Homo sapiens: one gene and its partner. The protein of the gene in region 2 interacts with the protein of the main gene of each other region in a pairwise test. Each region holds a gene or a part of one and is shown on either strand. Other genes may lie near its edges.

Region 1 (9,382 bases), on a different chromosome or scaffold from region 2:
CTATTAAAATAAAATTTAAAAATTTAAGGGCCGGGCATGTGGACTCACGCCTATAATCCCAGCACTTTGGGAGGCCGAGGGTGGCAGATCCCGAAGTCAGGAGATCGAGACCATCCTGGCTAACACAGTGAAACCCCGTCTCTACTAAAAATACAAAATAATTAGCCAGGCATGGTGGCGGGCGCCTGTAGTCTCAGCTACTCGGGAGGCTGAGGCAGGAGACTGGCATGAATTCAGGAGGCGGAGCTTGCAGTGAGCCGAGATCACACCACTGCACTCCAGCCTGGATGACAGAGTGAGACTCCGTCTCAAAAACAAAAAAAAAATTTTAAAACACACATAAAAAAAGCTAAATATAAGAACGGAAAAAGGAGCTGTTAGAGTCAGACATAAAGACAATGCTAAAAAATAACCATCATCAACTTAGCAAAGAAAGAAGAGAGAGAGAGAGGGGAGAAATACAGCAGTCATTTGGATCTCAAATACTTTTACACAGTGATAGCTGAGATTCATACAAACATTCATGTTTTGGCCAGGTGTGGTGGCTCACGCCTGTAATCCCAACACTTTGGGAGGCCAAGACAGAACTGCTTGAGCCCAGGAGTTCAAGGCCAGCCTAGGAAACAGAGGAAGACCCCATCTCTCCAAAAAGTTTAAAACTAGCTAGGCATGATGGCATGCACCTGTAGTCTCAGCTACTTGGAAGGCTGAGATGGGAGGACTGCTTGAGACCAGAAGATTGAGGCTGCAGTGAGCCCTGAGTGCACCACTGCACTCCAGCCTAGGCAATGAAGCAAGACTCCATCTCAAAAAACCAACAAAAATGCACATTTCCATATGCAAATCTATTTTTTGAAATCCTCCAATTTCAAAAGATAATCCAAAGCCATCATGATCATTATCAATATATCTATATAGTGCACACTTACCACTGCAATTTTCCCCAGTCAAGAATGCATACTAAACCAGGCACCGTGGCTCAGGCCTGTAATCCCAGCACTTTGGGAGGCCAAGGTGGGCCAATCACCTGAAGTCAGGAGTTTGAGGCTAGGCTGGCCAACATGGTGAAATCCCATCTCTACTAAAAATACAAAAATTAGGCCGGCGCAGTGACTCACACCTGTAATCCCAACACTTTGGGAGGCCAAGGCAGGTGGATCACCTGAGATCAGGAGTTCAAGATCAGCCTGGCTAACATGGTGAAACACTGTCTCTACTAAAAATAAAAAAAAATTAGTCTGGCATGGTGGCACATGCCTGTAATCCCAGCTACTTGGGAGGCTGAGGCTGAACAATCACTTGAACCCGGGAGGCAGAGGTTGCAGTGAACTGAGATTGGGTCACTGCACTCCAGCCTGAGTAACAGAGCGAGACTCTGCTTCAAAAATAAAATAAAATAAAAATATAAAAATTAGCCAGGCATGGCCGGGCGCGGTGGCTCACGCCTGTAATCCCAGCACTTTGGGAGGCCAAGGCGAGTGGATCACAAGGTCAGGAGATCAAAATCATCCTGGCTAACACGGTGAAACACCGTCTCCACTAAAAAAAAAAAAAAAAAAACAACTAGCTGGGCATGGTGGCGGGCACCTGTAGTCCCAGCTACTCCAGAGGCTGAGGCAGGACAATGGCGTGAACCCGGGAGGCAGAGCTTGCAGTGAGTCAAGATCGCGCCACTGCACTCCAGCCTGGGCGATAGAGCAAGACTCCATCTAAAAAAAAAAAAAAAAAATTAGCCAGGCATGGTGGTACGCACCTGTAATCTCAGCTTATCGGGAGGCTGAAGTGGGAAAATCGCTTGAACCTGGGAGGTGGAGGTTGCAGTGAGCCGAGATCACGCCACTGCACTCCAGCCTGGGCGACAAGAGCAAAACTCCACCTCAAAAAAAAAAAAAAGAAGATAAAAAGTAGCAAATTATAGAAAGTCCCTTATGCAAAAGAAAGCTTATTTCACTTTTATTCTTTTTTATGTTTGGTGCTTGAATAAATTCTCAACTAAAAGGAAAATTACTATACAGAAGTAGTCACTTGCTAAACATTACAGGTTGCAAAGGTTTACTCAATGACAAACCAAAAGGAAACTTATTTGCCTAACTATATTTGACTGTCATCTAGGTAAAGGGTCATGGAGCTTTCATGAGCAGGTTGGTTCAATTGTGCAACAAGGAAAATAAGCTTCCAAGCATAATGAGACTTATTATTACATATAAATTGTTCTTTCTGACAGAGGAAAGGACTGCCTAGCATTCTGCATAAAATCACAATGGCTTCAGCAGACAATGGCCCTATTTGAATCAGGGTGGAATCTGCAAGGGTAGAAAATTCATGCCTCAGTTAATTGTAATCTATAGAAGGCATGGATTTCAAAACAGCAAAGATAGGAGAGAATCAGACAAGATCTAGTTAGATCCTAAAGCTCATCTCTGAAGGGAGCTAATATAGTGACAATGTAAGCAGCATTATCTGCTCACTTCATGCCAAGGGGTATTTCCAACACCTATTAGTGATTAATGAGACATGCTATGTCATTACAGACTACAGGGTAGCCTCAGTTGAGGTTAAACACAAAATGGAACTTCAGACACCATTTCACTAAAAGCTCACATCCAAAGGCAGATTTAATTTCACTGATCCAGCCTTTCAAGACTAACCATAAGAGAAGACTGCCCAGGTGGAATACCAAAGAAGCTTCTGATTCAGATCACCGTTTCAAACAAAAGTAAAACAAAATTGTTCAGGAAGCAGTTCAATTCCAAACAGGAAGCTGTACTAAATACTCCCAACAGTATTAGCCACAAGAGGGATGTTAGAAAGGGCTAGGAAGCAAAGAGGACAACCAGCACCTATCCTATAAAGTTAATTGGAAGCTTAGTTAACTCATTTCCACTAAAGCAGAATGTTAGAATTCAGAAGAAATGAATTTTTTTTTTTAGCAACAACCTGGACTACAGTTCTTTTTTTTTTTTTCCCCCCCTGGATACAGAGTCTTGCTCTGTTGCCCAGGCTGAAGTGCAGCGGCACGATGTCAGGTCACTGCAAACTCCACCTCCCGGGTTCAAGCCATTCTCCTGCCTCAGCCCCCGGGGTAGCTGGGATTACAGGCACGTACCACCACACCCAGCTAATTTTTGTATTTTTAGTAGAGATGGGGTTTCACCATGTTGGCCAGGCTGGTCTCGAACTCCTGACCTCAGGTGATGCGCCTGCCTTGGCCTCCCAAAGTGACGGAATTACAGGCGTGGGCCACCATGCCAGCAATTTTTAACAAACCTGATGACACACGATAGCAGTAATTTAGGAGCTGGCCTCCTTTAACACAAAGGTTAATAAGACAGCCCCTCCCCACACACAAACCTGTGGATCAGCTTTAAGTTTTAGCTTAATTTGACATAACAAATAAAAGTAAACTGGAAAGCTATTTCAAGGGTCCATCTAAAAGACTATTACTTAACCAGACTTTCTTTCAAATTGATCTAGGGTTCTAATGAGCAAAATTCATCCTAGCTGCTGCGGTGGGGAGAGTCAGGGGAGGGCCACCAGTGACAAGCAGAATCAATTATCCTAAACAAAAAGCACCTAAGCATAATTTAGAGACAAAGCATGGTTCAGTGGAAAGAACACTGACTTTGGAGCCAGACCAGCCTGTGCTCTAGAACTAATACTTGGTGCCTCAGGACTCTGAGCCAGTTATCTGGCCCCTCGGAAGCGCATCAGCATCCTCAGCAATTATTATGAGCTTTACGCTGCAAAGATGTTTATGAGTATTAGAAATACAACATAAAGGGTCTAAGAAACCCTTTTCTTTGGTTCAAGGAAAGAGCTAAATGAACTGCAACTTTTATATTATTAGGTAAATTCAACCTGACCTTTTAATTCCTTTTCTGCATAAAATAACTTTCACCCTGTAATTCTAACCTGGCACATGGTAAGAGCTCAATAGCAGTAAATATTATTATCCAGCAAATTCACTAAACCTGTCCTTACACATAAACATCTATAAAACTTACAGCAACACTCCACTTGTAAAAAATTTTAAATAGGATCAGAGAATATGCTGACTAAAACCAACCCACTCACTGAGCAACCAGTTCTGTAGCTACATCAAGTATAGGGGCAAGGCCGGGAACAGTGGCTCAAGCCTGTAATCCTATCACTTTGCGAGGCTAAGGCAGGCGGATTGCCTGAGCTCAGGAGTTCGAGACCAGCCTAGGCAACATGGCAAAACCCCATCTCTGCTAAAAATACAAAAAATTAGCCGGGCGTGGTGGTGCTCAATTGTAGTCTCAGCTACTCGGGAGGCTAAGGCAGGAGAATTGCTTGAACCCAGGAGGTGGAGGTTGCAGTGAGCCGAGATGATACCTCTGCATTCCAGCCTGGGCAACAGAGCAAGACTATCTCAACAAAAAAAAAAAAAAAAAAAAAAAAAAAAAAAGCAGAGGCAATCTAATGAAGGTTTAACCCTCAGCAATCATGTTCATTCAGGGGAAAAGACCCCAATGTATTTAAATAGATTTTCTTAGCCTTTATTGTCTGGGAGACATGACACAAAATTTCTATCATAATAAAATGGCCAGTTTTGCTTCCATTACTGTTATAAACCCACATAGTCATCACACTTCTTTCCCAAATTAGATTCCAGATTAAACAGATGCCAGATGGGTTACAGATTTGATATTCAGAAGACTAATTTTTAATCGAAAGCAAACACTTTCTCAAATAGATTTTTCCACTTTTGCTTCCAGTAAATATACTTTGAGGGAGTTCCCTGAGTCTACTTCTTTAACAAATAAACATATGTAATCCCAGAAAATATACAGCAATTAACAGCCTGCAGAAATTTTTCTCTACTTCCATTTATCTGGTGACATAAATCACTGTTACATCAACCTTATTCACCAGTATGGGAATGTAAACACTTAAAAAACAAATTAAGCTATTTGCAGTAATTCCCATTTTACCACTTTAAAAATATTACTTTTCTCTGCAGTAAGGTTTTCTAGTTCAGAGCATTAAGCTGTCAACAAGACAGATATCCAAGCCCATCCATCCCGTGGCATTTGATAAGATCAACACAGCTATATATTTATAATCCTATTATCTCCTTAGCAGGTGAGAACAATGGATTTGGCCAACATTATTCAAGCTTCATAATACTGTATGGTAAAATGTTCATGACAAAGAGCAGAAGGTATGCCGGGCACAGTGGCTCACGCCTGTAATCCCAGCACTTCGGGAGGCCGAGGTGGGCGGATCACAAGGTCAGGAGATCGAGACCATTCTAGCTAACACGGTGAAACCCCATCTCTACTAAAAACACAAAAAAATTAGCCAGGCATGGTGGCGGGCACCTGTAGTCCCAGCTACTCGAGAGGCTGAGGCAGGAGAATGGCATGAACCCAGGAGGTGGAGCTTGCAGTGAGCCGAGATCACACCACTGCACTCCAGCCTGGGTAACAGAGCCAGACTCCGTCTCAAAAAAAAAAAAAAAAATAGTAGACGGTGTTCAGCACCATGAAACAGGGAGGCAAAAATAGAAAGTAGATGGTATCTAAAGAGATGTACAATAAAACTTCATAAACTTTGTTATATGTTTGAAATTTTTCATAATAAAATGGTGGGGGTAAATAACCATAGCAACTAACATGTCCTCTCATAGTTCAACTGATAACTGGCAATTTATATTTTTTGGAACAGCACAAATGGTATACAGCCTTGACTCTGGTGAAGTTTTATTTAAAGAAAAGCTCATGTAGAAAATTACACGAGAAGCATTTCAACCACAAATGTCTCCATCACCAGAAGTCAATGTAAAATAACCTGTTATAGGTCTAGTGTGAAACAAATCTGTCATAAAATTCTCTAAACATTTTTGAAAGCTCTAAAATCCCATTCTGAGAGAAAAGCAACTCCAAAGCTCTTATTTGAGAGGGGAGGAATTTATATTTCCTCAAATTGAACAATTCTGTGTCACTGGGTATCACATCAAATAAGAAGATCCAATTTAGAGGCTCATGAAAACAAGGCCTCTGCCTATAATCCCAGCTACTAAGGAGGCTGAGGTGGGAAGATGACTTGAGCTCAGGAGTTCAAGACCAGCCTGGGCGACAAACTCTGGGATTGACTTGTGGAATCCCACAAAAAGATACCCTTTTCATGAAAGTTTCATCTTTATACTGAATTACACTCTTACTCAATCCAGTAAAAAGGCTCAAAGAAAGTTGCCCCACAAACTGAGACTACCTTGTGGTATTGGGGAGAGAGACTGGATGAAGCAGTATCCATTTTGATAACACCCAGAATGATATCAATGATCTGGACTTTAGAATGGGGATGGAGGAGAGTTCCATGAGTCATGGCCATTTCTAAACTTAAAATACAGTAAATCCTCTCTTAACATAAGGGGTAGGTTCTTGGAAACTGAGACTTCCGACTAACACACGCTTATTGATACAAACAAGAGTTAGGTTCTAGGGCATATTTCTCATCAGAAAAATATCACCAAACTTTTAAATAAAGACCAAACACTTCGAATATTAAACACTGAAATAAATGTGAAGTATACATGCCTTTTTTTTTTTTTTGAGAAGTACTTTTGCTCTTGTTGCCCCGGCTGGAGTGCAATGGCACGATAACCGCTCACTGCAACCTCTGCTTCCCAGGTTCAAGCAACTCTCCTGCCTCAGCCTCCTGAGTAGCTGGGATTACAGGTGCCCGCCACCCAGCCCGGCTAATTTTTTTTATTTTTAGTAGAGACAGGGTTTCGCCATGCTGGCCAGGCTGGTCTCCAACTCCTGACCTCAGGTGATCTGCCCACCTCAGCCTCCAAAAGTGCTGGGATTACAGGCATGGGGTTGCAGTAAGCCGAGACTGCACCATTGCACTGCAGCCTGGGTGACAAGAGCTAAACTCCATCTCAAAAAAAAAAATTTTTTTTTTTACCACTTATTCCAGTTCAGGGTTGGGGTGGCTGGAGCCTATCTCAGCAGCTTAGGGTGCAAGGCCGGAACCAGTCCTGGACAGGACATCCACTGCAGAAAGCACTCACACTTACACACACAGCTCCACACACCAGTGAACCTCACGTGCACAGCTTTGGGATGTGGGAGGAAATCAAGAGTACCCAGAGAAAACCCATGCAGGGATAGGGAGAACGTGTAAACTCCACAGACAGTTTTTTTTCTCAACATTATCTTGAAACAACATTATTCAAGGACCTGCTGTAATCTGTATATACATGGACTTTCTGGCTGAAACCTAAAAGAGAGCAACTTATTCTCAAGAAACTATATTTATGGTAACAATTCTCAATGCTTAAAAGTTTTACGTTAAGCTTAATGGGAAGCACTACACATTTTTAAAAATGTGTTGTGTCCTTTCCCAGATACTAAATTGGCGTTTCTTTCCTAAATCAATTTTAAGAGGTGTATCTTTCCCCATCTTCCAGGTAGTCATAACTAAAACATAACATGTAACATTTCCACTGTACCTGATCAAGCTCAAAGTACACCTACAAAACTCAAATAACAGACCTAAAAGCTGAAAACTATTCACGACCAGAAATTTGAAAGTTATGCAACAAAGACATTTATAATATTTATAATATTCCTGTCAACTTCCATTGTAAGAGAGATCCTTTAGACACAAGAAAGAAAAACGTGAACACTTATGCTGTGATTTCATACTATTCACAAAAATTAAGGTTTCATTCATATTTGCTAAATTTGTTATTTGGAAATAGGGCAGACGGGGGCACTTTGGAAAACAATTCTATGTTAGAAGATTATCTTTTGCTTAATTCTTAACCTAAGGTAACAGCAGTATCTTTACACAACTACTGTAAAGAAACATTTTAAGTTTTCATTATGAATTATTAACTGTAGTTTAACTTTGACACAAAGTTATCTCTATTAAAGTGGGTTAAAAGGCAGGTCTCTGCCAAAACAGGACTGGGGAAATCTGTATTTGTTCGCTTTTCAATTATAGTCATTAATAGCTCAAGAATTTTTGCTTTTGTACACAATAAAGCAGCAAGGTTGTATTTTGATTTTGAGGAGCTGAAGGCATTGGATCAAGAGTTAATTTTCTTCTTCTTTTCTGCTGTACAGAAATCATGTATAAACAGAGAAGGGAAGCCCAACAAACAAAAATGAGAACTATTATTCTACTAAAAGTAAATTTTGTGACCTTAATCTGGGGCAATCTGGTAAAAGTCAAAATCGCTAATGTTGTGACACAATGTTTAAGATTTGTTTCAAAATAATCTAGTTTGTGTGGGGGGATACAACATGAAACAAAACCGACCTTGGCTATGAGTTAATAATTGTCAAAGCTAAGTGAGTGACTAACACATGGGGTTCTCCATACTATTCGAGTTTCGCATGTTTTCCAGAATAAAAGGTTTTTAAAAAATGGTATTTAAAATACCATTTCCCTATTGAAATATGCCATTGTGATATGGCAGTATTAGACATGCTTTATACTGCTTGTATAGTTGTTTGCTTATGTGTTTTTTTTGTTTTGTTTTTTTGGAGAGAGTCTCTCTCTGTCGCCCAGGCAACCTCCACCTCCCGGGTTCAAGCGATTCTCCTGTCTCAGCCTCGGGAGTAGCTGGGACTGCAGGCGCCCGCCACCACACCAGGCTCAAGAGATAGTCTCCATCTCCTGACCTCGTGATCCACCCGCCTCGGCCTCCCAAAAGTTCTGGGATTACAGGCGTGAGCCACCGCGCCTAACCTGCTTATGGAGGCCTAGGAGGGTGGATCACGAGGTTAGGAGTTCGAGACCAGTCTGGCCAACATGGCAAAACCCCGTCTCTACGAAAACTACAAAAATTAACACGGCGCGGTGGCGGGCGTCTGTAATCCCAGCTACTCGGGAGGCTGAGACGGGAGAATCTTTTGAACCAGGGTGGCAGAGGTTGAAATGAGCCGAAATCGCGCCACTGCACTCCAGCCTGGGCGACAGCGTGAGACTGTCTCAAAAAAAAAAAAAAATTCAAACAAACATTTTAAATTACAAACAATGGTAAGACTGTCAGAAAATTCTAGGAAAATGTCAAAAACAAGGAGGCCACTTTGCCGCATGTGTGTTAAGAGATGGGTATAAATCAAAATAGTTTCAGTTCACTAAGGAAATTTAATGCCTAAAACAATCCTAAGATACAGGAGGATCACTCAGGTAAACACACACTCCTTACTCATATAAAATTGAACACCCATAAGTTGCATTTCCTTAGAGTACACCTATAAAACTAAGTACAGAATTTTTAAAAACCCAGTATGTTTTAGTAAAGTTGCTGTTCTAAAAATCCCACCTGTCACCAGGATAACCGAAACTGCTCCCTCTACACTCCAACTGTATTTTTAGTTTTTACCTCAACAAGTAG
Region 2 (7,000 bases):
AGTGATGTCCCAACATCTTCTTTAATGCTGGAGTCCTCATTCCAAACACCTGACCTGCCCCCCTCCCAATATGCAAAGCTAATTAAGAGCAGGGCACCATTTAAAAACCACTCCTCTGTACATTTAAGAAAAATGCCTACTTTGCATTTGGATGACTCAGGTCCCTGAGAACCAGGGCTCCCATGCTGAGGCTGAGCATCTCAGCTCCCAGACCCAAAAACCCTGAGACACAGACATACTTGTCTTTCAATATAAGTTTCCTTTTATTTTGAAATTGAAACAGCAAAATGAAGTGGTTTGTGGCTGAAACAACCTTCACGGGAAAGAAAACTGGAGTGTTCGTTCATCCATCAAAGAACAAACTCCAACGTGTGAGCCAGCTGCCCCACCTCCCCCAAAGCAATGAACAGATTAAAGGATGGGAGGAAGGATACAATCAAAATCGGGTGGTGATGGCTGGCAGATTTCCAGTAAAATACAATTTTCAAAGTTGCCGCAATTACAGAATAAGCTAGCACTCATATTTAAAAAAAAAAAAAAAAAAAAAACTGTCCCAAGCAGTAGGCCTCCAGCTCTTCCCAATTTGCACTCATCAAAATACATCGTTCCCTCTTCTGAGTAAGTGATGTTTCAGAACTGCTTACAAATCCACTTTGCCTCAGGGGAGGAAGCTCTTTTGATTCACTCTGGTTTTGGGGACCAGGATCAAGATCCTGGAGAAAAGGGAGACTCCAAATGGTGATAGAGGACGTTTATTCATTATGGTAACACATAATCTGCTGAAATTCATTTTGAACGTGCTTTTACATAGCAGTGGCTAACATAAAATCTGCACAGAAATGTTACAAGTGGCTCCCCAGCCCCCACAGCCGGGAAGTGCCAGTCAAGATTTAAGCATCCCCAAAACAAAGCCTTTATTCCTGGGGGAGCTTATTGGCAGGGGAGGGGGGACAGGGGTGACTGAAGTCAGCTGGCTGGGAGGGGAGAAGGGAGAGAAGCACAGGAAGGACTCACTGGCAGGAATAGGGTGGGGGATGGGGTGAGACAGGCCAGGGGCAGACTGTGAAAGCTGTTACCTGTTGGAATAGCTAGCACGTTATCTTAAACAAGTGAAGAAAATCGCCAAAGAGTGAAACTTATTTATGGGGGAAAAAAAAGCTTGGGAAATTAAAACAATCCAGTGGTCACTGGAAAATGTCTCCCTTTTAAAAAAAAATTTTTTTTTTTGGTTTTTTTTTTTTTAATTTTATTTTTTGGAAAGTATTCTCAAGGTAATATTTTTTTCCTTTGGAAAAAGAAATCTTTTTCCCCCCCTAACCTAAGCAAGTGGAGCTGCCACTACCTAATTTATCTATTGTTTTGCTAAGAGGTAGATAAAACAAAAGTGAAATGGGGCTTCTATGAGGAGGTCCATTAGAGGGTGGGTGGGGAGGGGCTGGGATCGCCCAGTGGAACTCCCCCAACTACAAAGACGGCCTGAATGAGTCCAAGGACCGCGCCCTCAGACTCCCCCAGGGCAAAGGATCCTGCTTCACCTCTTCTCCTTCTAGAGCCAACTGGGCCCCCATTGAAGACTGAAAAAGGGCCCAATGGAGGTGTAGGATCTCAAAGAAACCCTGTTGAAGAGGTCTCAGCTCTGGTTTCCCCAGGCTTCCTGACTTTGGGGCTGTGTGGTGGGTTCCAGGCCAAGCCCCAGGTCTCACTCCAGCCAGCCCCCTCTAGAAGGGAAGAGGCCATTCCTTTCCTCACCATCTGGTCCAACAAAGCTATAGAAAGTGAGAGAGGGACAAGCTGGAGGCCAAAGGGGTGACACATGGGCAAGGAAAGCAGAAAGTGGGGACCTCATGGCCAGCCCTCCCAGCCCAATCGATATGGGGGGGATCCTGGCAGGCCTGCCTGTTCCCCAAGGACAAACCTTTTGTGGCACAAGCCTCAACTCACTTGTCCTGGCTGGGATTCATACCCTTATGCATGAGTCCCTGCCCTTAGTTCCAATCTTACTGTAAGGATTGAGGTAGTTAATCCATTTATACTCGTAGCATCCATCACCTGCGGTTAATCAAAACACATGCTCCCGAGGAGCTTCCTGCTATTTCATTCAAGAAAAAAAATTTTTTTTCTTTTGTCCATCCGGAGTCAACCATACTAAGGCGCCAGCAAAGGCGCCATCAGACTGTGCCCCAAAGCGGTGCACAGGACCGAGGGTCAGGGCTGGGGCTCTCGCCCCTAAATCCCCCTTCAGACATGAGGCCTCCTCCCTGTCCCGTACCCCGATAGAGAAGCCTTATGTATCCAAAGGAAAGAAACTGCAGTTTTCAGCTGGTGTTACTCTAAGTCTGAATACAGAGAAATGTTCTGCATCTAAATTGTCGAGTATTTGGAAGGGAAATGGCTTTTATGTCCCCTGGCATTGATGAGGATTTTTCTTCAATCTTCCTGCAATTACTGTGACAGGCTGTGCTGTTTCCCTTCTACTGGTTTTCAAGAAACAGGCAAACAGTCGAGTGGTTTGAATGGCAAAGCCACTAGGATCTCCCCATAAACACTTCAGGGGAAAGAAAGGAGAACCCCCACCCCTGATGAGAGGTGGGAGGAAGGGGTTGCCTAGAGGCACCAGCTTCTCCTGTGGAGCAAGAAGGCTCAAGCAGGCCCTCTGGGGCTCTGTGAGGTAGTTACTAGCACTGCTGGTTCCCAGTTTGGCAGAGGGTATGTCTGGGTTGGGAGGAGGGGAAGGCACCCTTGAGAGCTAACTGAGGCCCCTCCTCACTGCCCGTCTGCCAGGCCTGAAGGGAACTCGGCAGTGCTATCTCTGCAGTAGGGGCAGGGGACAGAGCAGTCCCACAACAGGGAGCTACCTGGAGCCCCAAACTTCCTCTCCTTCCCCAAAGTGCAACCAGGAGCCGACAGACCAATTTCTCGGCTCCCTACCCCTTGGCTTGGCAAACACCACACCCTAATCCCCCAGGAGCCTCTGAAGGGAAGGGCCTCGCCCTTAGCTCCCAGTTTCCAGGAGGCCTTCCTCCTCAGACAGCCAGGTATGTGTCGAAAGCTGGCTATTGCTTTGATTCAGGAACAGCCTCTCTCAGCCTCTGTCTGTCTGTCTTTGGCACAGAGGAAAATGGACACAGAACCAACTAGAGCATCCCCCTCCAGTGTTCTCTGGGTTTTAAATGGGGTCTTTTCTGCCAATAGTGAGGCATAAACAAGGATAGCTCCCAACTGCCTCCAGAAGGAGGGGGTCAGGAAAAAGGAAAAAAGATTGATAAGGACTGGGAGGAGGGGAGGAAAGTAGAAAAGGGCTATAAAACTCCCTGTCCTTAAAAATGGCTCTCTCCTAACCAGACCCCTCACAGGAGCTGAGTCCACAACCCAAACTGCAAAAGGCAACCAGACCCGAGAGGGGATTAAAGCCATTTGGGGTGTAACTGGCAGATGCAGCTTCAAAGTCAGTCAGTGAATCAAACCATTTTGGTTATGTGTTTCAAAGAATTTAAAAATATATCCTAAAGAGATGGTCCTTTCTTAAAAATATATATGTAGCACACACACACACATATATATCTTAGAGCACAGAAGCATTTTTTTTAAGTCACTCTTCTCAAATCATCCAAATCTCCCAAGTGCTTTTCGCGATAGCTTGTTATCTCACCAAGGATGGGGAAATGGAGGTGCTGAGCAGGAGGGCAAGGAGTTGCCCTAAGACCTAGCCTACGGGGCACAAGAGGGCCCGGCCCACCAAGACAGGTCCTTCATCCCACTAAACCTTAACCACCAAACCATGCTCCTTTTGCTTTCTGGTGGTATAACTTACATGATTTTCCTGCTGGGCAAATATCAACAATGAGTGGAGCCTTGCCTAATCCAAGCAAGTGAAGTTTTCCAGTCCCTTGCCACACACTTCCTCGTCTCTTCTGGGAGCTGAATCAGCCAACGGAAAAGGACTTGGGCTCAAGGTGTGAAGGGAGCAGGCCCCCAAGGAAACTGAACACTGCAACAATCACATTTCAGGTACTGTGGGATTTTTTTTTCTTCCTGATGATAGTCTGAACCAGATATCAAAGCATGCTTGCTGCTGGAAATTCGCTTTAAATTACTAAATGGCCGACGTCTGAACGTTATCTGCTTTGTTTTGGGATAAAGCATATAGAGCCAGAGATGGAAAGCTGGGAGACCCTTTTTATGGTTGGGACAGGTGGAGAGGCTTAATTCTACTGGCCTGATGTTATCCCTAAATGTTTTTCTGCTTCTATTCAATTTGGGCCAGACAATTCTGGGGGCTACAAGGGAATGTCCTAGGGAGAAAATGATAAGGCAGGAACCTGTCCCAGTCACGTCCCCATATCCCCTGCCCCTCCTTGCCACCAGCCACCCTAAATCAAGAATTCCCTAAGTTTGGGTCCACTTTTAAAATCAATCAGACCGATCTAAAGAAGACAGGGAGACAGAGGTGGGGGCAGTTAACTAGTATCTGTTTGCCCCTTAGATCTATGGATATAGATTAGGAAGAATAGCAAGACGGAACTGAAATGAAACAATAACAAAAAAAAAAAATGAAAAGCATTGCAATGACAAACCAGGTGGACCTCTCTGAGGGCGAGAGGGTGGCCTTGTCTTTTTTCCACGAACGGAATCTCAGCTCCCATATTTTTAGACAGAGAAATATAGGTTTTTTTAAAGGGTATATTTTTTAGTTATTATTTCTCTCCTCGATAAAACGGAGGCAATATTTTAAAATATCTCAACAGCACCACTGGTGGGAAAAGCTGGCTGAGATGCTCTTTAACCAAAGGAGGAAAGAGAGGAGACCAAGGGCCAGCTGGTTGGTTGTTGGGCATTGTTTAACCACTGAGAGCCCCCAGCTCCACTAGGCCTTTTAATCCTATCAGGTAGGATATTCCAGCAGCCGCCAGCAGCTGGGGCTCTAGAAGTCAGAGATCAGGGCCAAACAAGGCTCTGGGCTCTGCCCCTCTGGGCTCTCTCAAACCTGGGCCTTCCCTCTTAGCACTAGCCTCCTCCTAAGGGGGCAGCCCCCAAAGCCTTTCCCACCAGGCCTGTTCTCCATAGAGAGTTCCTAAAGGGTTACTGGCTCATGTTGTAAGAAATTATGAAACATAACTTTCTTGTTTTTTCTTTTCATTAAAAAAATAAAATATTCAAGACTATCAGCTTCTCTTTTGCTTTGCTTTTCTTTTTTATATAAAATATCAGCAAGCTGCAAAAAAACAAAAATCAAAAAAAAATTTTTTTAATGGGGTTGGGGGGAACAAAAAGGAAAATAATTGCTGAGGTAACTTCATACCTTGAGGTAGTTTACTTCGCACACAGCATTGCCTGACTACGCCCACATGTTGCGGTTGTCTTGTTGTTACTGTTGTTGCAATGTTGAAAGGAGGGGAACTCCACGCATGGGCTTTTCCATATGTAGAGAGGCCTTCCTCCCTTCCCAGCACACTTGATAGCATTGTCCAGGGTAGCTAAAGTGCATTACCTGGCTAATATGCATTGTCAATCAGTATATTAGGAGGAGAGGCCTAACCTCATTTAACTGATGGCTTCTGTCTCCCACAAGGGCTAAACACTCCATGGGATCTTAATTAAGCCTGGTAAATTAATAAATTAAGCTTATTTACCCCTTGCTGTACAATGCTGCTGGTATTCTGAATTGTTTTTTAGACACACCTTTCATCATGCTGATAATGATTCATGGAGACAGAAGCCGTCAGTTAAAAATTCCTCTCAGATACAAACAGAAGCAAGTACTCTCCAATTTACTGAATTTGCCAGATGATGGACTTTAGCTTTATCGGGAGCTCAGGGTTGGGTTCCAAGTCCCACCACCAAGGTAACAGTGCCGTGGCTGGGAGTGCCCCACAACCCCTGCCTCTAGGAACCAGCCCTTATGGGAGCACATGGGCTGGGGTGAGGGCACCGTGGCAGCCTTTGGGGCCACTCAAGTCCTCCATGGAACCGAGACTTTATCAAGGGGAGTTAGCGTCCCCTTCCCAGTGCTCATATCCAATCATTAAAATAGACTTTAAAAAAATATAAAATCCGCCTGAGAACGATGGGAATCAGGGACAGTGGTCAGCCCCTACCCTGCTGAGCATTCAATACCACCTATGTGCACCTGGACATAATGTGAAACCTACACGGGAGAGGGACATGAATGTGGTGGGGAAGCCCCAACAGAGTGGGGAAATTTCAGTTGTGCCAATTTGAAGATGGTGATCTGGCATAGATCAGCCACAAGTGCGCTCCTTTTAAACGTGGATTATTATGTATTTTAACCATCTTTCTCCCCATTTTCCCCTCTTCTTCATTCCGTATTGTACCTATTGGTTAGGGAGTGATTGGAATTAATCTACAGATACTGACAGTTCTTTTCCCTTGAGTCAATACTGTAAGCAAAGCAATGCATTCGTTCGCATTTTTTTCTGGTAGCAATAAAGATAAAAAAATTAGTGTAAATATAGAAAGAGGCCGTAAATGGAGGTATTTTAATCAATTACCCAAGTAGGGGGAAGAAGATTGGAAAAACATTAAGGTCAAGAAATGAACCATCCTTTAAGGCTGATTAAAACACCTCTCTGCATGTTTTTAAAACCTGAAGGAAATTTTATTTTTCTTCCCACTGAGGTGTGATCCACCCTCTTGGTGGGGCCTGGAGAGCTTCTTTAAACAATCCACGTTTAAAAGTGCCTTGCGCTAGAATTTCTGACACCCCGAGGGGCAGACAGTGTTGGGCCAATTGGGTGGGTGTTTGGGGCTGAGAGATCAGGGTTCCTCACTGGAACATCTTTCTCAATCAAGTGGGCAAACCTGATCTACAGCCCGGCCCAGGTGTCCCGGATTCCCACTCATTCTCAGGCCTGCCGGGGAGAGCACACTCTCGATTTCTGCCCGTTGTTGTCCTGGACTCGAAGGGACAGGGAGGGGCTGGTCACTTCCTCCGTGCCTGGGCCTGGTTACTCTGTCCCTTCTGATGCTGCTGCTTAACCTG

What was found.
Region 1: the proteins of IGF2BP1 (region 2) and STAU1 interact in binary tests that used the Homo sapiens proteins (3 or more experiments, as listed by UniProt).

Annotation. Positions count from the first base shown.
Region 1 is NC_000020.11:49,177,369-49,186,750, forward strand, and holds part of STAU1 (double-stranded RNA-binding protein Staufen homolog 1), read right to left. Parts: exon of another isoform or gene 9,371-9,382; intron 1,877-9,370; exon of another isoform or gene 930-1,876; intron 1-929. UniProt on the Homo sapiens protein: Binds double-stranded RNA (regardless of the sequence) and tubulin.
Region 2 is NC_000017.11:49,049,385-49,056,384, reverse strand, and holds the end of IGF2BP1 (insulin-like growth factor 2 mRNA-binding protein 1), read right to left. Parts: coding exon 6,941-7,000; 3' UTR 240-6,940; downstream 1-239. UniProt on the Homo sapiens protein: RNA-binding factor that recruits target transcripts to cytoplasmic protein-RNA complexes (mRNPs). This transcript 'caging' into mRNPs allows mRNA transport and transient storage.